3 separate regions of the Homo sapiens genome follow, and regions 2 and 3 are each linked to region 1. Evidence: fine-mapped expression QTL. A gene starts in region 1. Each other region holds a variant in brackets. All regions are shown on one strand. Distances are from middle to middle.

The links. PIP is the estimated chance that this variant, and not a neighbour inherited with it, causes the effect. A credible set is the group of variants that fine-mapping cannot tell apart.
Region 2: its variant is the best candidate, but not a certain one, in a credible set for the expression of STIMATE-MUSTN1 in subcutaneous fat (GTEx, PIP 0.55).
Region 3: its variant is the best candidate, but not a certain one, in a credible set for the expression of STIMATE-MUSTN1 in pituitary (GTEx, PIP 0.80).

What each region holds. Positions count from the first base shown.
Region 1 is chr3:52,893,502-52,901,343 of GRCh38, forward strand. It overlaps STIMATE-MUSTN1 (STIMATE-MUSTN1 readthrough), which reads right to left and starts at 4,047. Exons shown (of 10, transcript NM_001198974.3): 1 at 3,790-4,047. The coding sequence starts at 3,949. STIMATE (STIM activating enhancer) reads right to left here and starts at 4,047. Exons shown (of 8, transcript NM_198563.5): 1 at 3,790-4,047. The coding sequence starts at 3,949. RefSeq lists a silencer at 3,600-4,309.
Region 2 is chr3:52,670,758-52,678,599 of GRCh38, forward strand. PBRM1 (polybromo 1) reads right to left here. Exons shown (of 32, transcript NM_001405607.1): 3 at 7,743-7,840. Among named protein-coding and RNA genes, the nearest start is that of PBRM1, 11 kb to the right of the region's middle. RefSeq lists an enhancer at 531-700. The variant C/T (reference allele first, on the strand shown) is at 5,037.
Region 3 is chr3:52,836,109-52,843,950 of GRCh38, forward strand. STIMATE-MUSTN1 (STIMATE-MUSTN1 readthrough) reads right to left here. Exons shown (of 10, transcript NM_001198974.3): 6 at 7,613-7,690; 7 at 6,703-6,852; 8 at 4,392-4,502. STIMATE (STIM activating enhancer) reads right to left here. Exons shown (of 8, transcript NM_198563.5): 6 at 7,613-7,690; 7 at 6,703-6,852; 8 at 625-4,502. The coding sequence ends at 4,386. Among named protein-coding and RNA genes, the nearest start is that of MUSTN1, 5.0 kb to the left of the region's middle. RefSeq lists enhancers at 1,342-1,511, 3,695-4,196. The variant C/T (reference allele first, on the strand shown) is at 3,860.

The DNA of each region.
Region 1 (7,842 bases):
AAAAACCAGGATGGGGTGGGGAGAGGTGATCGTAGGGAAGGTTGTGCCAACACAAGCCTGTTCACACAGAGCACACAGGGAGGCCGGTTTACCACGGAGAAAACCCCAGAAACTCTCATTTAAGATATCAAAGCTGAGTGGACTGGTTTGTGATTTTTACTTTGGATTGCAGGAAAAAAGTTATCACTTCTCAATGTTAGCAGTGTTTTTGTAAAACATGGACACATTTCTCCCAGCTGGCTAGGCCCCATGTCTATAACAAAAATAGGCAGGCAGATTTATCCAAGCTCTCAAAATGCTTGTTTTATTAAAAACCAATTCTGTCTACACTTCAGCCCAGAACCCTGACTGTGCACGGTGAGGGAGGCTTGAGTTTGCTTTGCATTCACATGTCCTGAGAGCAAACACCCCCAAATGCCAACACACACACTGGCCAACACGACCTTTGGCTGACAGCTGGTTGGCTACCCTGCACTGGAACAGTTTGCTGAGCTCTAGGACTGCTTAGCTCTGTTCTGCTGAGACCCTAGCTGAGCAACTTTGTCAAGTCACAGACTATAGACAAAACCACCAAAACGAGGAATTGCTTAAAACCACCAAAACGAGGAATTGCTTGGCAAAGCCCCCTCGTTTAAAGCGTTTCTTTCTATGCAGATACCTAGCAGACACTTCAGAAAACTCTAAGTGGAAAGTATCTTCATAAGCTTGTCTCTGAGTATGTTCATCTTTCCTTGCGTACACAGGGTACCTTAGCTGGAGCCTCTAGGAAGCCCGCCAACTCAACAAGGCAGTGCTGACACTGGGACATGTGTGTGGGTGGTGCCTGTAACAGTCTGCATGTTTATGCAGCTTGAATAATGGGCTACCATGTATGACCTGGCATATACATTCTCAACTGCCTGGACCAAGAGGGTCTATAAACCCTACATAGTAAGGCAAGAAGTCTATCAAAGCACCAGAATGAGAAATTCTTGCAGAACCAGAATCCTCCCCAGAGACATTAATATATATAAGTAATCTTCCTTCAGGACAAACCTCTCCAGATTAAAAACAAAGAAACAAACAAACAAAAACAAGGCAACGTGTAAGTGGAGAAAAAAGTGATTTTTCTGGATAGAAAAAGGAACATAAAGACAGTGGTCTGAGGGGTCACTGAAATCAGGGAGGTGAAGTAAGGAAAACTACCTCACAGCTTGTCTGCAGAGAAATGGGTTCATTCTACAGTCAGAGCTGGTCCAACAGGAAACAATAGTGTTGGCCATCAGGACTGGGGAAGCGTTCCAGAAGACAGGCAGTGAGCCCATTGCCTCGAGGGCCACGGGTACTCAGAAGGGAAAAGACTGTGATCTCAAAAACAGCCCCTCAAAGGACAACGGCTGTTTAAACTGCTCAGAACAGACTGGTTGGTATTTAAAATGTTTGAAGATAACAGAACTGAGGAAGGATGGAGTGGCCTCACCTTAACACACACTAAGACTTCCCTCCCTCAGGGCTGCGAGGGGGACCCTCGTCAGGGGAGCCTGGCCTTCAACAGATGCCCCTCCTGGCAGCTCCGCCAGACTGAGAAGGACGGAGGACTAATAGCCCAGGACAAAGCCAAATGGCTCGCAGATGTACTTCCTTAAGGCTACCTTGATCTCGTTCCTCTTCCACCTTAGAGATTTCTTCCTCTTCCCAGTAGTTCAAGAAGGAAAAGCCTCGCAGTTCTATTTCAACAGGACCAAGAAATCTGAGAGATAAGAAGGGCCCCACCCTGACTGCATCCCAGTCAGTGGGCTTCTTCTTGTCCAGCTCCCAGAGTACCATTGCCCTGGCCTGCTCTGTCTGCTTCTAGGTAGGGGGAGGAGGCTCTTGCTCTCACCTCCATTTCTGTGTCAGGGCAGACATAGCTCTAGCCTTTCCAGCTCTTCTCCCCATCACTCCTACCCACATCACCCCAGGACCCACCAGCCATTTCCACAAGCTCCGTCCACGTCAAGCCTCACAGTGAACAAGAGACTGCTTTCTAGTTCAATCTCTGCACACAGAAAGTACCAACCACAGTGGGATTTGCACATGTGCTCACGCTGAAGATTAAGTAAAGAAGTGAATATGTCCCTGAAGACTCCACTCAGAACACATTCAACCCGATACACTTCTCAGCTGTGAGCAACTCTGCCCTGTCATCATCACATTTCCTTCTCTGAATCACAAGTGTCAAACCCTAGGGGACAAGCCGGGCCATCAGCATCAATCAAACCTATGGAAACAGCCAGAGCTAGGCTAAGAAACCTCAGGTTAGGGAGCAAAAGAAAAATTTAACCTACACTTCCTTCAGAGAGAAAGGAAGGCTGTCTGGAGGACAGAGAAGTAGGAGGGGTATGAAGATCCACTCACCATGTCTTGAAAACACACACGTACAGTACATGCGCCCAAGTCAGCAGCGGATTTTGGCTAAGTTGTCACAAATTATTACTGTGGGAACAAGTGGGTATTTGTTTAGCAGAGAAAAAGCAAGGCAAGTTGGGACTAAAAAGGAAAGAAAAAGTGGCAAACATAGACAGTTGGGCACTTATAAGACTTATCAAGGACAGGCCACCAGAAGAACGCGGTATCCATGATCAGAGCCTCTTCAGGGTTACTTAAAGCCTGAGAGAATTCACTCAAAGAAACCCCAAGTTATAAACAAGCAAGGTGGCCACTCCAGCAACTGGACCCCACAAGACAAAGGCACACAGCTGCAAGATCCCTCCTGAGTACCCCAAAGCATACTTTCTGCAGGAACTCTCCACTCTGTCCACACAAGCACAGTGGGGAAGTTTTGAGAACAAGTCATTTTTGGAATTAATGACTCTGCACAGATAGTTATAACCTTTCCTTCCCCCTAAAACGCAGTCACAAGGGCACTCCTAGGCTTACATGTCGAGCAAAACTTCTTGTTACTTTAATAAGGGAAGGATGCACACGATGAAAAACAGAAGCCCCCCCCCACCCCCCATCAGCACACATGAGAACAGGGTGGGGGCTTCCTTCTCTATTCAGCCACTAAGGTGCCCAAGTTTAATGGAAAAGGAAACTTAAAATATAAAGAATAAAAGTGGAAAGGGAACAGCCAGGGGAAGCTATAGATGCGGCTTATTAGGAAAGCTTGGGACAGAGATGGAACAGGTGGGCCTGTTCCGGAAGAAACGAGAGGAAGGGGATCTGGGGAAGAAGGCAGACTGGGTGGGTCCTACCCTGACAAAAGGGAAACTAAAGCTGAGGAAGAAGGGCCACGGAGAGGGAGGCGGGTACTGGGAAACGGAAGGCATGGCCCTAACACTCCAGGTGTTGAGAGGGATGCAAAGTAGCAGGATTTAAATGTGAACGGAGAAGGCAGATCCTTGAAGAGTGAAGGGGCAGAAAAGAGCTCAGCATCGCACTGGGGATTGAGGGATGTGGGTTCTAAGCACGAAGAGCCCCTGAGAAGGGGCGGACAAGGGGATGTCACCCTTGGGGGTCATGATTCCAGGCTGGGAAGTGGGGTAACAATTCGAGATGGTAAGGTGGGAGGTAGGCGAGTTTTAGACTGGCGTCTCAAAAGACAGACGTTTAAGGTGGAAAGGGGAAGGGTCACTCCTGTCTGGAGGCCACAGCGAGTAGGTGAGGGGCTCGGGCTACCCCTAGTGCAGGAATACCCAGCCTGGGTTTGCGGGGGAGGAGCAATTCGGGTCCCAAGGCCTGAACTCTCCGCGCAGGAGGGGCCCCCAGGGGGGCCGGGCCGCGGCTGCCGCGCAGGGCCTCCGGAGGGTCGGGGGGTCCCAGACTCACGCATTAACGTGCTGAAGGCCACGACGCCGAGCAGCCCCTGCAGGAAGATGCCGAAGCTGTGCATGAGCGCGCCGCTCTCGCAGCGGCCCGCCCCGGACGCGACTGTGGAGGGCGGCCCGCCTGGCAGTCCCCGGCTCGCGTTCCCGGCGGGGCCCTGCATGACAGGCCTCGCGGGAGGGGCGCGAGGGCCCAGGGCCCGCCCGGCCTCGCTGCCTGCCGGCGCAGCGCCGCCAAACCCGCAGCCGGGATCCCAAGCCTGAGCCGGTACCTCCGCCCGGCCGCCGACTCCGCGCCGCGCGTAACCCGACGTCTGAGATCGCAGTGCCTGATTGGCGCAGCCAAGGTTGGGGCGGGCCTCGGCCGCGGCAGCTCTCCCCACCCGCCCCCGAGGGGCGGGGCTCCGGCCGGGCCACGGGGCGGGGTCGCGGGTCCCGCTCCCCTCTCCAACCCCGCCACGCCCGCAGGTAGACAGGCCAGGTGAGCCGGCCACCGCAGACCGGAATGAGAGCCTGGGAATCACGAGCTCCAGGTCCGGAGGTAGGAGCTGGGACGGCCTGTGGTCAAATTATTTTTCCCTCTAAGGAAAATCCCTATATCCTGGAGAAATTATCATCATTCCTGAATTCCACCCTCAGAGATCGTGATTCAGTAGTTCTGGGGTGGGTCCCAATAGTTTGCAGCCTGGATTATTCTGAAGCAAGTGAATAAGGAAAACAATCTGAGACTGAGTACAGGAGTCTTCCCTCCAACCCAGACATTTGAGTCTTTTTCCTACTTCCCTAGCTAAAGGCTTATCAAGGCCCCAAGTCTATTTTCTTTTTTCATAGACATAATTTAAATGGTCACCTGAATCCAATCACTTTCATTTGGAAATATACCAGGTTTCACACTGAAAACCTGACGTGCACATGTCCCACCTTATTCACTTGGGGAGCACAACTACCTTTAGAGTGTAAAAGACAAATGGTTGGTATTTTCCAGGCTCCAACATCCCCCTGCACACACACACTCCCATCTAACCCTTTCCAACTTCTCAGAACCTGTGCTCTGCCTTTAACAAGACCCTGAGTCCCCATTCTCTCACCCATTCTCCCAGCCCAATCTGGGCTCTCTCTGGATACCTTCTTGTTGGTGCTCTAGAGCCGCTGACCTTCCTGCTGCAGAATGTCAGTGAACACATGGTGTAAGTCCAGTTGACACTCACCCATTCTCCCAGCCCAATCTGGGCTCTCTCTGGATACCTTCTTGTTGGTGCTCTAGAGCCGCTGACCTTCCTGCTGCAGAATGTCAGTGAACACATGGTGTAAGTCCAGTTGACACTCACCCATTCTCCCAGCCCAATCTGGGCTCTCTCTGGATACCTTCTTGTTGGTGCTCTAGAGCCGCTGACCTTCCTGCTGCAGAATGTCAGTGAACATATGGTGTAAGTCCAGTTGATACTGAGCTACGTGTTTTCAACGGTAAATATCATCTCTAGGAAAAAGTTTCCTATTAAATAGCCCCCCAAATTCCAATTACCTAAGAGGGTTATATGCTAGCTAAAAGCTTTCTTGGTGAACAGGAATATTAACCTGATTAGAGAATAAAAATGCAATTCTCCAGCCTTCTCTTACATTTTCACACCTCTGTGCCTTTATGTAGCATTCTAGCTGCATGGATGCCATTCCCTTTTCCCTGCTCCATGAACTGCTCCTCATGTGTCAAAGCCTTTCTGACCTCCCTCTCCCTCTTGCTCCCACATTACCTAGTGTGTACTGTTCCACCAAAACTTTTCAGACTGCTAAATTTGACAGCTGTACACATGTCTCTCTCCCACAGCTAAGTGTGAGCCTCCTGAGGGCAGGAATTATTTTTATTTACCCTTCAATTCAAATTCAGTATGGTGCCTGGTACAGAGAACATGCGACAAAATGCTTAATTTAAATGGAATTTTAATTTATAAAATTTTAAACTCTCCACAAGTACTGGCCGTGGGCAAATACAGAAAATCAGATTAAAAAAATAAATGGATAAGGGAAAATTAAAATTGCATGACTGTCTTTTAGTCTAAGAGGGATCTTATGAGGATGCTCAACAGTTAACAGTACATGTTTAGAGAGAACCAAACAAGAGGCTACGTCTTAAAGCAGAATAGATTGTGGTTGGGCATAAGGAGACTATTGATTGCTTGAAGACACAGACAGCTCAAGGAAAATTGGACATAGAGCTGAAAAGTGATGTTTTTGACAAAGAATTGTTCTGCACATCCAGCTGTGGAGGAATCCTTAAGGCTCACAGAGGAACAAACAAGAAGCAGTCTTCAGAGATCAGGGGCGGAATCCCCAATGTCAGGAGCAAGGTTGCTGTGGGGAAATTCTACTCTTCCTATCTTTCCTGAACTGGAATTAAAAAGCACCTAAATCCAGAAGGTAAAGGATGAGACAGCAAGAGAGGGGGAAGAATTCCGGAGTTTTATTAAAGTAGGAAGGAACTTCTCATCTATTTGGAAATGATTCTCTGAGGTCCCGCTGGAAAGAGTTTTAAAAAATTTACTCTGGCCAAAATGCCTTCCTTGTTGTCAAATCAGCACAAAGTTAAGGTTAAACATAGCTTAAGACCTGTTCTCTTTAGTTTTCTCACAACCACTTAAAACTGTCATAACGTACCACCAGTTTATATACAATCATATTTACAAAAAAAACACGCAAAATATTAATCCAAAATAGTTTTTTTTAATCCTTTGAAGTTATACCATCAAACTTGATGGTAGTTATTTTAATAGGTATTCTTGTGCATACTTCTTAAGTGTACTTTTATCTTTAATGCATAACTTTTGAAATTAAGAGGAAAAACAGCAAGCAGGAAGGATACAATGCAATAAGCATTTGATTTTGTTCTAAATGAGCAGCTTTAAAAAAAAAAGGTAAAATACATTAAACAAAGTGCATCAGTTCCAACAAGTTAGTATTAAAAAGAGGCCTAAGGACAGTGCTGGAACCAGCCAGGAGTCCCTCCCTGGCAGGCCTCTGATTGTCTTCAGAGAATATTCAATGAAAAAAAAAAAAAAAAAAAAAAGGAAGAAAGGAAGGGAGGGGAAAAGAAATGAGCACTTGAAATCTCAAGGGAAACATTCAAACTACCGTCTCCAGAGATTCTTGCAAAAGGAGCTAATGGACTGCCCAACTTTAACTCTGCCTAAGCTTTGTAACCTCCCTCAATCATCTGCTTTGTGACTTGATTTGCCCTAAAAGCCTACCCTCATCCTTTCAGCACTTTTGTCCACCTCCATTCTGCCAAGCTAGGTATGCAGTTAGATTGAATAAACCATGTAGAAACCCTCAGGCCTGAGTTTCCACACATCCTGAGAACAGGCACCCCCATCAGCAAATGGTGGCACCATTTCACTAGAAGGCACCATTTGCCTCCAGAAATAATGGGAGACCCTTGCCTCCCACAGATCAGGGTCCGTGCTTTTCTGCTGGTGTTGGAGACTTATCTGGCAAGGCTGTGGCTTGCTTCTCTCTTAAAACAGTCCTTTGTGATAGGCCATAGCACCAGGACAGACCCAATGGTGTATTAAGTCAAAAAAGACTCAAGAAGAGGGAGTTTTAGGCCTACTTCTCTATCTCCCCAACTCTCCACTCCTGGTTTTGCTGGTTCTTGTGAAAATCTCAGGCTTCTTAAACACCATACCCAAGAAAATGACTCTGCAGTGCATTTGCTGCCCACCACCTTCTACACCTCCCCATAAAGCTGCCCTCAGAAACAAGGCTACCTGTGTGGTCTGGGACAAGTACTGAAAAAACACCCCTGAAACCACCCTTGGAGTGGGCCTGGAACCAGATCCAGTTCGACTGAGCATTGAATTTAAAACTTATGCCCAAACTCTAAGTCATAGGTAGCTTGTTTGGATAAATTCAAGTTTCCAAAGTATGCACATTCTCACATAAGGGGTGGGAGTCATCAAAACTCACTAGTAAAACATCTAAAGTGAACAAAGTCAAGGAAGAATTATAATCGCAGGAAAGTAACATTTCTTTTTGGTTTTGCAGGAGGCTCTCTGTCCTACGATTT
Region 2 (7,842 bases), 220 kb before region 1:
GCTGAGGGAGGACTGCTTGAGCCCAGGAGGTCAAGGCTGTAGTGTGCAAAGATGGTGCTGGTGAGTAGCCTGCATTCCAGCCTATGTGACATGGTAAAACCTCGTCTCTAAGGAAAACAAAGCAAAACAAAACCTTAAAGACCATATTTATTCTCCAGCCTCACTGCAGCTAGATTCTAGCCAATACGAGAGCTGAAGTGTGTCATATCCAAGTCATGTCCTTAACATTCATTCTTTTTCCATACTGGCTGGAAGGCAGTTGTGGTAGTGAGTCATCTCAGACCATGCAGGCAAGGGTGATACCACAAAGACCGCAGAATAGAGTTGGCTAATACTTGTACCTTGACAACTTCACAGAACAGGACTTTTACACAAGAGAAATAAATTTCTCTTTTGTTTCAGCCATTGTTGATTTGCATGTCCTAGCACAAAGCAGACTAATACAGTAACTGAAACAAAGTATCAAAAAGATATTCACAAATTGTGTAGCTCTGAGCAATACTAATTCTCATAAATACTTGAGAAAAAAACATACATTCCACAGAGGAGCGTCAGAAAAAAGGCACCATTATCTTCGAGGTTGTAACATGACAGTGGTCCAGCACCCAAGGTGTGTATCCTCTGCCCCTCAGCACTCGCCTGCCAGCAAAAAGGAGGCAGCAGAGGGACGGTATCTTCTATAAAAGTTGTTTTGTATACTTCAGTGTGATGCTGCTACTCTATACCACATAATGGTTAAGAGCACAGGCTTTGGAGTCAGAACGACTTTAGTCTGAACACCAGTTATCTTTTAGTAGTTACAAGAACTTGTGCAAGTTCTCACCTATAAACTGTGATAACTCAGAATTTTAAATAAGATATGATTGGGAAAATGCTTGGTATTGTGTCTAGAATGTGGCAAACAATAAATACATGCTTTTACTACTTTATGCTAATTAAATGACAACTTTCAGAAGACTATTATTGATAAACCAACTCAAATATGGAGACAGTTACCTCATTTTAAAAACAATGCTTCCTTTTTGGCCATGGCTAATTTGCTAATTTACAGGGCTCTCCTAATTCAGGATGATGACACTGCATTCTCAGTGGCTTGCTCGTTGAGGTGAGAAATTTGCCTCCAGTTCAACTTAGAGCTTGGTAACTACCCACTGTAGCATCAACAATCATGAATGAATCTAAATCTTTAGTTAACTCACAGCTTTCTACAGCTGCTGTAACAAATTACCACAAACTTCAGGGCTTAAAACAAAACCCATTTATTATATTAGTTCTAGAGGTCAGAAGTCCAAAATGGGTCTCACTGGTCTAAAATCAAGGTATTAGCAGGGCTGCATGCCGTCTGGATGTTCTAGTACGGAGCATCTAGCGAAAAAGGTTTCCTTGCCTTTTTCAGCTTCTAGAGCTCACCTGCATCCCTTGGCTTGTAGTCTCCTTCCTCCATCTTCAAAGCCAGCACTACAGCATCTTCAAATCTCTGACTGAACTTGTCTCCCTCTTCCCCATTTAAGGACCCTTGTGATTACACTGGACCCACATGGATAATCCAGGATAACCGCTCCAATTCAAGATCAGCTGATTAGCAAACTTAATTCCCCTCTGCCATGTAACACAATATATTCACAGGTTTCAGGGATTAGAATGTGGAAATATTTGGGCACCAGTTTTCTGACTAACACACTCATATACGTTTTCAGAACAAATAACTTCAATTTCCAGAGGTTTTTTTTTGGCTTTTTTTTTTTTTTTTTTTTGAGTCAGAGTTTCACTCTTGTTGCCCAGGCTGGAGTGCAACAGCGTTATCTCCGCACACTGCAACCTCTGCCTCCTGGGTTCAAGTGATTCTCCTGCCTCAGCCTCCCGAGTAGCTGAGATTATAGGTGCACACCACCACGCCCGGCTAATTTTGTATTTTTAGTAGAGATGGGCTTTCTCCATGTTGGTCAGGCTGGTCTCGAACTCCTGCACTCAGGTGATCCACCTGTCTCGGCCTCCCAAAGTGTTGGGATTACAGGCATGAGCCACCACGCCTGGCCAATTGCCAGAGTTTTGAAGAGAATAGTGATTATATTTTGACAGCAAGAGAGGAAAGATGTTCTAGTTAGGGGAACATACCTTCCATAGGAAGTTGTGTGCAAGATGCCTCTCTGTGTAATTTAAAAAACTGATCCCTTTTAACTATCACTGTGACAACTTCAATACAGTCTTAAGAGCTATTAATTTTTTTTATTAATTTTTAATTTTTTTGAGACGGAGTTTTGCTCTTATTGTCCAGGCTGGAGTGCAATGGTGCAATCTCAGCTCACTGCAACCTCCGCCTCCCGGGTTCAAGCAATTCTCCCACCTCAGCCTCCCAAGTGGCTGGGATTACAGGCACCCACCACCACGCCCGGCTAATTTTTGCATTTTTAGTAGAGACAGGGTTTCACTATGTTGGCCAGGCTGGTCTCGAACTCCTGACCTCAAGTGATCCACCCGCCTCAGCCTCCCAAAGTGATGGGATTACAGGCATGAGCCACCGCGCCCAGCCATAAGAACTATTAATTTTTATACTGCCTATGTGAACCAGGTGTTAAAAAACAAAATGAAACAAAAAAATTAAATAATTTAAAAAACATGCTTCACTCTCGGCCAGGTGCAGTGGCTCATGCCTGTAATCCCAGCACTTTGGGAGGCTGAGGCGGGTGGATCACCTGAGGTCAGGAGTTCGAGACCTGCCTGGCCAATATGGCAAAACTCCGTCTCTACTAAAAGTACAAAAAAAATTAGCCAGGCATAGTGGTGTATGCCTGTAATCCCAGCTACTCGGGAGGCTGAGGCAGGACAATTGCTTGAACCCAGGAGGTGGAAGTTGCAGTGAGCCAAGACTGTGCCACTGCACTCCAGCCTGGGCAACAGAGTGGGACTCCATCTCAAAAAAAAAAAAAAAAAAAAAGCTTCTTTCTCAAGGAATTAGAGAAAAGAAGAGCAAACTAAACCCAAAGCTAGCAGTAGATAATAAATAGAAAGGAGGGCCAGTGCAGTAGTTCATGCCTATAATCCCAGCACTTTGGGAGGATGAGGTGGACAGATCACTTGAGGTCAAGAGTTTAAGACCAGCCTGGGCAACAAAGTGAAACCCTATCTCTACTAAAAATACAAAAATTAGCCAGGCATGGTGGCACACGCCTGTAATCCCAGCTACTTGGGAGGCTGAAGCATAAGAATCACTTGAACCTGGAAGGCAGAGGCTGCAATAAGCCATGATCACGCCACTGCACTCCAGCCTGGGCAACAGAGCAAGACACTGTCTCAAAAAAAAAATATATATATAGATATATATATAGAATGCAGATAAACGAAATTAGAGAATAGAAAAACAATTTTAAAAATTAAACAGTTGGTTTTTTTAAAAGATCAACAAAATTGGTAAACACTTAGCTAGATTAACTAAGAAAGAAAGAGCTGAGCACGGTGGCTCACGCCTGTAATGCCAGCACTTTGGAAGGCCAAGGTAGGCGGATCACCTAAGGTCGGGAGTTTGAGACCAGCCTGACCAACATAGAGAAACCCTGTCTCTACTAAAAATACAAAATTAGCTGGGCGTGGTGGCCCATGCCTGTAATCCCAGCTACTCGGGAAGCTGGGGCAGGAGAATCGCTTGAACCTGGGAAACGGAGGTTGTGGTGAGCCACAATCGAGATCGCACCACTGCACTCCAGCCTGGTGCGAAACTCCATCTCAAAAAAAAAAAAAAAAAAGAGAGAGAGAGGCTGGGTGTGGTGGCTCACACTTGTGATCCTAGCACTTCGGGAGGCCAAGGTAGGAGGATCACTTGAGCCCAGGAGTTTGAGACCAGCCTGGGCAACACAGGGAAACCCTGTCTCTACCAAAAAAAAAAAAAAAAATATATATATATATATATATATACACACACACACACACATATATCTCCTTACCTAACATTACATACGTTATTTTTTAATATGTATGTAGCGTTAGGTAAGAATCCAGCATATTTTTACATATATAAATAAAAAATACGTTATATATACAATATATATATTTTATGTGTTTACTATATACATACACACGTATATATAACATATATATTAGCCAGGTATGGTAGCATCAGGTGAGAGGACTGCTTGAGTCCGGGAGGTTGAGTCTGCACTGAACTGTGATTGCCACTGCACTCCAGCCTGGGTGCCAAAGCAAGATCCTGTCTCAAAAAAAGACAGAAAGGAGGAGGGAGGGAGGGAAGAAGTAAGGGAGAAAAGAGATGCAAATAACTAAAATCATAAAGAGGAGACATTACAACCAATGCCACAAAAATAAAAAGGATTATGAGAGTTCTAGGAAAACATGTATGCCAACAAATTAGATAAACTAGAAGAAATGGATAATTTCCTAGAAACACACAACCTACTAAAGACATACAAAGCCTGAGTAAACCTATAACTAGTAAGGAGACTGAATCAGTAATAAAAAATCTCCCACAAAGAAAATCCCTAGACTGATAGCTTCACTGATGAATTCTAACCAGACATTTCAAGAACTAACACACCAAGCCTTATGAAACTTTTCCAAAAAATTGAAGAGGCGAGGTCACGTCCTAACTTATTCTATGAAGCTAGCATTACTCTGATACCAAAGCCAGACAAAGATACTACAAGAAAACTACTGATCAATATCCCTTATGAATACTGATGCAAAATTTCTCAATAAAATATTAGCAAACTGAATTCAGCAGGATATTAAAAGGATTATATACCATAACCAGGTGGGATTTATTCCACAGTGAACAAGGTGTTGAAGTGGTGAAAGTGGGCATCTCTGTCTTGTTCGTGATCTTAGAGGAAAAGCTTTAAGTATTTTGCCACTGAATATGTTGTTCACAGTAATCAAAATGTGTGCTACTGGTATAAAAACAGACACAGGGACCAATGGAATAGAATGGAGCCTAGAAACGACCCTCACATACACGGTCAAGCAAATTTTGACAAAGGCGCCAAAACCATTCAATGAGAAAAGCACAGTCTTTTCAACAAACGATA[C/T]CGGGAAAACTGGATACACACATATAAAGAATGAAGCGGGGGCCGGGCGCGGTGGCTCACGCCTGTAATCCCAGCACTTTGGGAGGCCGAGGCGGGCGGATCACGAGGTCAGGAGATCGAGACCATCCCGGCTAAAATGGTGAAACCCCGTCTCTACTAAAAATACAAAAAATTAGCCGGGCGTAGTGGCGGGCGCCTGTAGTCCCAGCTACTTGGGAGGCTGAGGCGGGAGAATGGCGTGAACCCGGGAGGCGGAGCTTGCAGTGAGCCGAGATCCCGCCACTGCACTCCAGCCTGGGCGACAGAGCGAGACTCCGTCTCAAAAAAAAAAAAAAAAAAAAAAAAAAAAAAAAAAAAAATAATGAATGAAGCGGGATCCTTACCTAAACACTACTTATAAAAATTCAAAATGGATCAAAGGCCTAAATGTAAGAGCTAAAACTATAAAACTCTTAGAGGAAAACCAATACAGTTTGGCTGTATCCCCATTCAAATCTCAGCTTGAATTGTTATCTCCTAGAATTCCCACATGTTGTGGGAGGGACCCAGAGGGAGGTAACTGAATCATGGAGGCCAGTCTTTCCCGTGCTATTCTCGTGATAGTGATTAAGTTGCATGAGATCTGATGGGTTTATTAGGGGTTCCCACTTTTGCTTCTTGCTTATTTTTCTCTTGCCACTGATGTAAGAAGTGCCTTTCACCTCCCACCATGATTCTGAGGCCTCCCCAGCCATATGGAACTGTAAGTTCAGTTAAACCTCTTTTTCTTCCCAGTCTCGGGTATGTCTTTATCAGCAGTGTGAAAACCAACTGATACAGTAAATTGATACCAGTAGAGTTGGGCGCTGCTGAAAAGATACCCGAAAATGTGGAAGCGACTTTGGAACTGGATAACAGGCAGAGGATGCAACAGTTTGGAGGGCTCAGAAGAAGACAGGAAAATGTGGGAGTTTGGAACTTCCTAGAGACTTGAATGGCTTTGACCAAAAGCCTGATAACAATACGGACAATAAGGTCCAGGCTGAGGTGGTCTCAGATGGAGATGAGGAACTTGCTGGGAATTGGAGTAAAGGTGACTTTTGTTATGTTTTAGCAAAGAGACTGGGGCATTTCGCCCCTGCTCTAGAGATCTGTGGAAGTTTGAACTTGAGAAAGATGATTTAGGGTATCTGGCAGAAGAAACTTCTAAGCAGCAAAGCATTCAAGAGGTGAGTTGGGTACTGTTTAAGGCATTCAGTTTTATAAGGGAAGCAGAGCATAAAAGTTTGGAAAATTTGCAGCCTAGTCCTGTCCAAGAGAACCCTGATTAATACAAAAACATAGGGGAAAAGCTTCATGATATTGGATTTGGCATTAATTTCATGGATATGACACCAAAGGCACAGGCAACAAGAGAAAAAGACAACATAAACTTCATGAAAATTAAAACCTTTTGTACATCTAAGGACACCGTACAAAATGAAAAGGCAACCTACAGAATGGCTCTATCACCCAGGCTGGAATACAGTGGCGGGATCTCAGCTCACTGCAACCTCTGCCTCCCAGGTTCAAGCAATTCTCCTGCCTCAGCCTCCCAAGTAGCTGGGATTACAGGCGCCCCACCACCATGCTCGGCTTTTTTTTTTTTTTTTTTTTTGAGATGGAGTTTCACTCTTGTCACCAAGGCTGGAGTGCAACGGTACGATCTCGGCTCACTGCAACCTCCACCTCCCGGGTTCAAGTGATTCTCCTGCCTCAGTCTCCCAAGTAGCTGGGATTACAGGCGCCCACCACCAAGCCTGGCTAATTTTTGTATTTTTAGTAGAGACGGGGTTTCACCACGTTGGCCAGGCTGGTCTCAAACTGCTGACCTCAGCTGATCCACCCGCCTTCGCCTCCCAAAGTGCTAGGATTACAGGAATGAGCCATTGCGCCCAGCCTTGCACCTGGCTAATTTTTGTATTTTTTAGTAGAGACAGGGTTTTGCCATGTTGGCCAGGCTGGTCTCGAACTCCTGGCCTCAGGTGATTTGCCCACCTATAGACCTCCCAAAGTGGTGGGATTACAGGCGTGAGCCACTGTGCCTGGTCAGTACTCTTTTTTAAATATTTATTTTTAGGCAAGCTCTTGCTCCATCACCCAGGTTGGAGTGCAGTGACACTCATGGCTTACTGCAGCCTCAAATTCCCAGGCTCAAACAATCCTACCACCCCAGCCTCCCTAGTAGCTGGGTCTATAGGTGAGCACCACCACACCTGGCTAATTTTTCAAAAAATTTTTTGTAGAGATGGGTCTCACTATGTTGCCCAGGCTGGTCTCAAATTCTTGGCCTCAAGAGATCTTTCCGCATAGGTCATTTTTTTTGTTTTTGTTTTTAAGAGACGGGGTCTCATTATGTTGCCCAGGCTGGTGTCATACTCCTTGGATCAAGCAATTCTCTTGCCTTAGTCTCCCATGTAGCTGGGATTACAAGTGCATGCTCCTGTGCCTGGCTCAAAAAATCAAGTAGCTGGGATTATAGGTGCATGTTACTGTGCCTGGCTCAACAGATTTTTAATTTAAAAAAAGCTTCACTACAGCTTGATTACTAAAGACTAAAGACTAAAATTGGACCCCAGTATCATTTAAGCCATTCCTGCCAACAAAAAGCTCAATTTCCAAACACTTTAATACACATGGACTCTGGACCAAATCCCCCGCAACTGTACTGATGTGCTTCGAACTCACCTTCGCTTTGGTGCCCTAATGAAGAGCTCACAGAGAAGTCTGCCCTGTTCATCCTTATAGTCTCGGATGGTATTATAGAGTTCATGGCACACGGCAATCT
Region 3 (7,842 bases), 57 kb before region 1:
TATCCTCGAAGGCTCCAGGCAGATGGAACTCAACCAGGCACTGACATTTGGTTATCCCAAATGCCACTCCATTGCTGTCATACTTTGAACCCCACCCCAATCCCCCTCCTGACACCCTGGCTCCAGGAGGCCAATGAGAGGACTGCCAGGCTTGATCTGAGACAAGTGCTGACATGAGGAATGCCCAGGATGTGGCACATGGGCCAAGAGGCAGCTGAGGGCAGGCCAGGCCTTGTGGGGGCCTTCCACTAGTTCCAGGGGTGCCCCTGCAGATGGCACCTGATGCTGCGGCTCTGCCCAGGGACCTCCTTCCAGCCCCGCAGCCTCAGGGACAAGGATGTGGGCTACTCACTGCTTATACTCTACCTCCCCAACACGATGTCCTCCTCAGAGACGGACTTGCTTTAATTCTCACTAGCGAAGAAGTGGAGATGGACATGGCAAGAGCATGTTTGGCTTTTCACTGGGCAGTTGCTGGCTCCCACTCCTGCCATGAGGCTTCGTAAGGTTCCTTCTCACTCTGGTCCCTGGGGAGAACCTTCTAATTCACAGGGGAATCTTTTTTGACCCTGCCAAGCTGTTTCAACTCCAGAGAACCCACAACCACAACCACAAATGTGATGGTTTCTTTTTAAAAAAAACTGTAATAAGATGCCAAACTTTATTGTAAACCATTTTACAATGTAAGTACATCATCTTCTCTTTCATTTCAAAAAAACGTTTCCATGAATCCTACCACCACCGATTAAGCACCCCCACTGGATGGCTGCTGAAGTGGGCCATGGTTTTCCTTGCATAGGTCTGACTTCTAACAAACTTCAGGAAAAGAAAAATCAAATTTAAAACAACCCAACCAACCAACCACCAACCAACCCAGGAGCTCAAGGTGCTTGTGGCAAGTCAGACCATAAGTCCCTTACCAAAAGCCAAGCCCCTCAGAGCTGCTAATGTTTCACGAAGTAAAACAGAGAGCTCTGCACTCTTAGCTGCAAGCGTGTGAAACTTCTAAAAGCCAGCCCCACATTCTACAAGGCAGCTGCTCTGGCCAGTGGGAAGCTCCTTGCACTGCCTATCTTAGCCTGGCTGCGAAAAGGCCAGTGAACTGCAAGGGCAGAGTGAGCTGCCAGCTGGGCGCTGCTCCCTCCAGGGTTCTGAGGCAGCCTTTGGACATAAACTTGGGGCTGCACCCTACAGGCTTACACTGTCTAAGGGAAGTCACAGCTTGGATTTGAGCCTTTTAATATTTTCCCTGAAGAAAGAGGCATGACAGGTGACATTAACCCATGACTCCCTGTTGCCAGGGAGGGCACAAGTTAAAGCTTGAGGAAGGAGGCCACCAGCACGGCTGAGGGGCCACAGACCCTCCTCTTGCATGTGTGCAAGCTGAGTGGACCAAGAAGCCACCACCACCTGGATCTCACTAACATCCCCCCTTGCCATTGTCAACAACCCTCTGACAGCAAAAGGAAGTAACAGTACCAACCACCTCTTCCATTTGGATATGACAGTTCTACCTCATTAGTTTATTTCCAATAGTTACAAGAAATTTGTTCATGACCTTGACTTGCAAGGTTCCACCACAGGTGGCTTGGCTGAGGTCCAGATTTGGACAAATCAGATTCATAGCACACAATATCCAGCCAACGTCCCACCATTTCTCAACACGGTGATGGATGCCATGTGGCCAGGTGAAGAGCTGCACCTCGTAAGGCACCTTGGAGCAGGTGGAGAGGAAACTCATCCCAGGGAGGGAGGGCAGCTCGGGAGGAAGTCCTGACCACAGCCCTCTGATCTGCTCTCATGGGATGGTGCACCACGGAAGAGCCCCCAGTGACTGCAGGAGGCACTCCTGGGGATACAGATTTGTGTGTGTACATGTGTGTGCACGTGCACGTGCACACACACACACAAACACACAAGAAAGGGAAGGCCAAACACGAGAGGTGTCCTATGGTCAGACACCCTATTAGACCCCCGTCCCCTGGTCAGCCAGCCAGCTACTAGCCACAGCTCAGAGACTAAAGCCCTTTCTGAAAATCAGGATACAGGGAAAAACCACCACTCTTCAGCTACCTCTTTGTTCCCCAAACCCTCTGCTCACTGGGAAGTGGGCAAAGCCTTCAGATGAGACCATCTGAGATCTATATAACCCAGGGTTTGTTTCACAGCTTTCATAGATTATGGCTCTCCTATCCCCTGCCCTGTCTGGAAACATTAGGAGCTCAAGACTGAACATGAAGCTCCAATTGTGAGCTCCAGGAAGGTGGAAGAAACAGCTGCAGGCACAGGTTGTTCAAACCAAAATGAAACAGGAGGGGAGGAATTAGAACTGAGTCAGTGATGCCATGAGGGAATGACCGTCCTGTCAGGAACATGAGTCTTGGTCTTCCTAAATTCGACTGAGAATGGCCTGGTTCTAGCCACTCTTCCCCACTAGAGAGCTGCTGGGGAAATACTGGCTACCATAGCTGTGGATGGGAGGGAGCACAAAGTCAATCCGAGCAGGAATGACACCAGCAAAGTTGCCTCCTACTGTAGTTACAGTCCCTGCTCCTCTCAGCACCCTGGCTCTGCACTCCTGGTGGAAGATGGGCTGAGAAGGCCTGCCTGATGCTCGCCTTCAAGTCCAGGACAGGTAGGGCTCTGAGAGGCAGAGGGCAGTCCCAGGGTACCTGGTTTAACAGCTGGGTTCATGCGCCCAATTCGGACCCAATGTGCTTAAGTGAAACACGTGCTCATGCAGGTCTAAAAGGAAGGTCCTAAGTGGAGTGGCCTCCTCTGCACTTGTCTCACTTGAAGTCCAGGATGTCTCCCTTCTAGCTCATCACACCTTAGCAGTGTGGCTTCCTGTTCCTAACCATCCGTGGCTGCCTCTGAGCTTGACAAACCACCAAGCAGTGCCCCTACCTTGCTGTTTCCACAGCAGGGAAACGGCTGGGGTCAGCCCATTCCACAGTCACTCAGCAAACTCCCAAAACCACAGGGGCCTGTGGCCATGCTGAGGAGTAGTGACCATTCCCCAGGGAGGGGACACGGCCTAGAAGCACCTTGCCCTGCCTGTGGTTTAGAGAGTGAGCTCTCTCACCCCTGCCTCCCTTAGCCACCTCAGCTTTGGAGGGTGAGAAAAACAGGATCACTTTGTGAGGCACATGTTCTCCAGAATGCTGTGCAAAACAAATAGGTGACACTAGGATGACAGGTACCAGGGCAGCAGGAGAGGAGGCTCCTGGCGCTGAGTCCAGAGGCTGGCTCTGAAGGCTGCAGCAGTGGGGGCTGGGAGGCCAAGACCACTTTAAACCGTGATTGGAGGCTCTGCAGACAGGCAGACTGCACAGGAGTCTGGTAGTCTTGGGTCCTCTGGAAACAAAGACCTCTTAGCTAAGCTCCTTTCTTGGTCAAATTTAACTAAGATCTCTAATCTGCCAGCAGGAATGCTAGAGCTCATGGGCCCTGGGCAGAGCCTTTCCTGTTCCACACTCTGCAGCTCCTGGATCTGCATCCAGACCAGCTGCTCCAAGCTTGGGTCTGACCTTCACAGAACCATTGGGTTTGCTGATTCTAGAGAAGGGCCATCCTCCTTCCCTCCCCATCATTTGTCTCATCTTATCATAGGGCATCATCTAATAATATTCCAAATAAAAAACTCCCGATTTTTCCTCCTGCCAGCCCACACCCCATGAAAGGCAAATAAACCCATTTCTTTGGGGACTAAAAAGAGTTTTTAAATACAATAGTATGAAAATATAACTTAAAAATATAAAAGTCAAACAGCATACGGAAGACTTAAAAATCTCTGTTTTGCCCATTAGTCCCGTAAGTACTTTGTAGGAAATAAACACATACCCCCAACCTGGTAACA[C/T]TGTCACAACTCATAAAACCAGCTTCAGAAATCAATAGTTACAAAAGCCATTTTGAGTAAGAAAGCATTCCGGTTCCAACTTGGTCAACGAGTCACTTTTAGCCCGAGGGTGTTATGTGTTCGCACTGCCCACAGCCACGGTGAGGAGACCCACCCACGGTCTGTGTGCCTGTGCTTCCTTCCACCTTGCCACTCGGTGGTCGGACACGGGGCAGGGCCTCAGGTCCCTCACAACACTGTCTGGGACGACAACAAACAAACACAGCTCCTTCCTTGCATATTTGGTCAGTGTTTGTAGTGCAACTGAATGGGGACCTCCAGCCGCCAGTGGCCCCCTCGGGCGCTGGCTCCTCTTCCCTCTTTTTAAGTCACAGTAGTCTGGGGGCAGGCGAGAGCGGGCAGAGACAGCAAGAGGAGCAGAGGTAGAAAGGAAGGGCAGAGAGAGGGTAAGGAACGATGCTGCGGGATGACCTCTGCACACCAGCGGCTGGCGGGGCCCTCCCGTCACCCCCAGCATGGGAATGTGTCATACGGGTAGCCCAAAGCGGTGCTTCTTTTTCTTCACAGGCTTGAGGGGGGTCAGTCTGCGGAGGTCCTCCTCCACGTCGGACTCCTCCATCTCATCATCCGCTGAGATCAGGATCTGAGGCAGTAGAGAGGCAGGGCCTGAGTCACCCCCAGCAGGGCCTTCTTCATTTGCCCTCCCTGGACCCTGGGCCCTTCAAGTCTCATGTTTTTTTTTTTTTTTTTTGGACAGAGTCTCACCCTGTCACCCAGGCTAGAGTGCAATGGCACGATCTCGCCTCACTGCAACCTCTGCCTCCTGGGTTCGAGTGATTCTCCTGCCTCAGTCTCCTGAGTAGCTGATTACAGGTGCGTGGCACCATGCCTGGTTCGTTGTTTTTTTTTGCTACTTTTAGTAGACATGAGGTTTCACCATGTTGGCCAGGCTTGTCTCAAACTGCTGACCTCAAGTAATCCACCTGCTTCGGACTCCCAAAGTGCTGGGATTACAGGCGTGAGCCACCATGCCTTGCCAAGTCTTAATGTTTCTTTACAAGAGAGTGAGGGGAAGCTCCCTGTACTCAATGAGACGTGCTAGCCTCCACAGGCCATGTTCACTCCAAGGACACTCATGGGCTACTGAAGCCAGCACTGAGTCGACAGACCCCCTTCCTCTGCTAATGCTCCCCACTTCTCAGTCCACCTCCAGGGGAACCGACCTCCATCAGGACAAACTCAGCAGGGATCTGCAGCCTAAGGTCACCCTGGCTAAAAAAAGCTCAACCATGACACATGCAGTTGTTGAAGCTGCCTTAAATACTGCAGAGGCAGACTGAAAAGCCCCTTTCAAAAGGAAGAGAAAGCATCTGTGGGCAGGGGGAGTTCAGCGTGGCTGCTCTGAGCCAACTCTGTAACTGCTGAAGACAAACAGCGGCACTTTGCTGTTCTAAGGCCCTGGAATGACTCAGCCATGCAGCTGGGGCAAACACACTCATCCGCTGCCCGCCTGCCTGGCTCCTTAGACCTCTGAATACCAGGGAAAGGTTGGAACCACCTAGGTTGGGATCAGGAGGTCCAAAGCCCACCTATGCAGGGAAACACGAACTCCTATTCTAGGGCAGGGCAGGCAGTCTCACCTCCTCTTCCCTGCACTGTTCCCTTGCGGGGCTTCCTGCCTCTAGTCTCGGTCCCGACCACCACACTCCCACTGCTCCTCACCGCCTGTACGAGCACATCCCAATGCCTCAGCCTGGATCACAGGGCATTGCCGATCTAGCTCAGCCTGTGCCTCACTTCTTGTCCTTCTGTCCTATGCTCCAGAATACAAGCCACAGTGCATTTCACACTATGGCCCAGACACCAAACCATGTGACTGTGAATGCTCATGAGCTGCTGCTTCTGCCCATAACACTGTTTGCCACTCACCTAATGTTCACCAAGCTCTCATATGACAGGTGCTGGCCAGATTCTAGAGACAAGCACCTAGAGAAGACACGGCTTCCCCTCTGTCCTACTATCTATTCGTCTTCTGAAACTCCCTCCAGGCTGTCCCAGGGCCCTCGTTGGGTTCTGCCTATGCCTCAATCTTAGAACATATTACGGTGTCATGACGAAATACTTATGTGTCCACCTGCACCTCACCCACGTGTCTGACAGCCTCTCCGGGGAAGACGTTTGTCTCAGCTTTTCTGCAGCTCCCACCTGCACACTTCCTAGGCCTCCCATGCCTCCCACGAGCTGGCCCTGCACGCAGATGTGGGGTGAGTGCTGCGGGGCCGCCAGAACACATATCCTGGCCTCAGGGCTGCTATTCATGGCCACCGTTCTTCCCTGAGGTCCAAACCCTTGAACTCAGAAGACCAGAAAATAAGGGGGGGATGAGTTTCCTCCTGCAAGGTCTGGCTACCCCTATATTTTAGAAGTTTCCAGCTGTCTGAGCCAACACTTCCCTTGCTCTTTAGTGTTGGGCAGAGATTCAAATATCCTAATGCTTGAAGATCAACCATTAGGCCCATGACGGTCCTTGCCAGCTCACCAAACAAGGCAGAACTTCCCTCTCCTGTCTGTCATCTCCACTGACAGAGGAACTGTCGCAGGCAAGCCACTCCCATCTGCTCTGCCCTCCTGCCCTAGGCAGGCCCAAGGGACAGTGGGAATGGGTCCTGGCTGGACAGAGCTGTCTGCCCCTCGCTCATCTCTGGCTCAGCCTCTTCTCCTGCCCTCTGGCTCGCACTGTGACTCTGCACTCAAGGGAAGAACATACACAGACATGAGACCAGAGACCCCCTTGGGCCAGCGATACGACGGCTTGGGCCCTTGGAGAGTCAGGGAGGCCCTACCTCAGACTCAGACTCCTCGTGGGATGCGGCCCTCCGGTAGCGGACCTTGCTCCCATTCCTCGAGTCCTGGTTGGCTCCCCTTTCTTCTAGCTTAGCTTTCGTCTTCCCCTTTCTCATGAGGAAATTGTCCACTACCCAAAACATCAAAGCCTGTGGGAAGGAAAAGTGCAGGTTACTTTGGGATAAACCATTTTTCAAAGCAAAGCCGAACAGCCCCCATCCGCCCACTCCCATTCCAGGTTATAAGATCCAGAGCTATGGAAAGAAAAACCCAATCCAATCACCCTGCTCTCTCCCAAAGCTTAGAAAGAGATTCCCAGTCTCCACATCCTCGGGTTCAGTTTTCTGATCAGAGTGTGCAAGGAACGTGCCCTGACGGGTTTTTGTTGTGGTAACTAGGGGGAACAGCCTGTTTGGGGCCTGGAAGCAAGGTCTCTGGACACGCGTTCCAGGCCCCTCCCCACAGACTCCATGTGGGTGGCCGGCACACCCTGCTGTCATCTGTTTGTCCCAGCTTCCCTCACCACTTCTGTTTCTTAACTTCGAGCCATTGTGCTCGGGAGTTTCTCAAGATCCGTGGTCAGGAATGAACGATGGGTACGTTTGGAACAATCCTGAACTAGAGGCTGGCGCTACACATGGGTGGGGCTTCTTGGTGGGAGGCCCCTCGGCAGGGAGGACAAGACAAAGCTCCCAGGCCCCTCCATCCTGGACGGGAGCCCTGGTATGGGGCCCTGCCTTTTGAGGGGGTAATCCTGCCATTTCCAGGTCTGGGGGTGGGAGAGGTGGCAAATGGTCACGCAAAAAGACCTGAGGGCTACAGGTGAGCTTTCTGTCAGACTCAGAACTTTGGACAGGAACCCTGCCAGACAGGGAGCAAATCGGGATAAAAATGCAACATGGCACTGACGTTGACAAAGAAGGGGACGATCAGCATGACGATGGCCAGCTTCAAGTCTGGGTTTTCAATGGGATTCAACAGGGCCACCTGTAAAGAGAAGCAGACTCAGTGAGGTAGGGAGAGGCCACCGAGAGTGTGCCTGGGGTGGGTGGGTGGTACCCATAGGCCCTGAGGGAGCCTTAGCTTAAGACGCTTCCTCCAAAGCCCAATGGGAGCAGCACCTCATGCCTAGGGTTCCC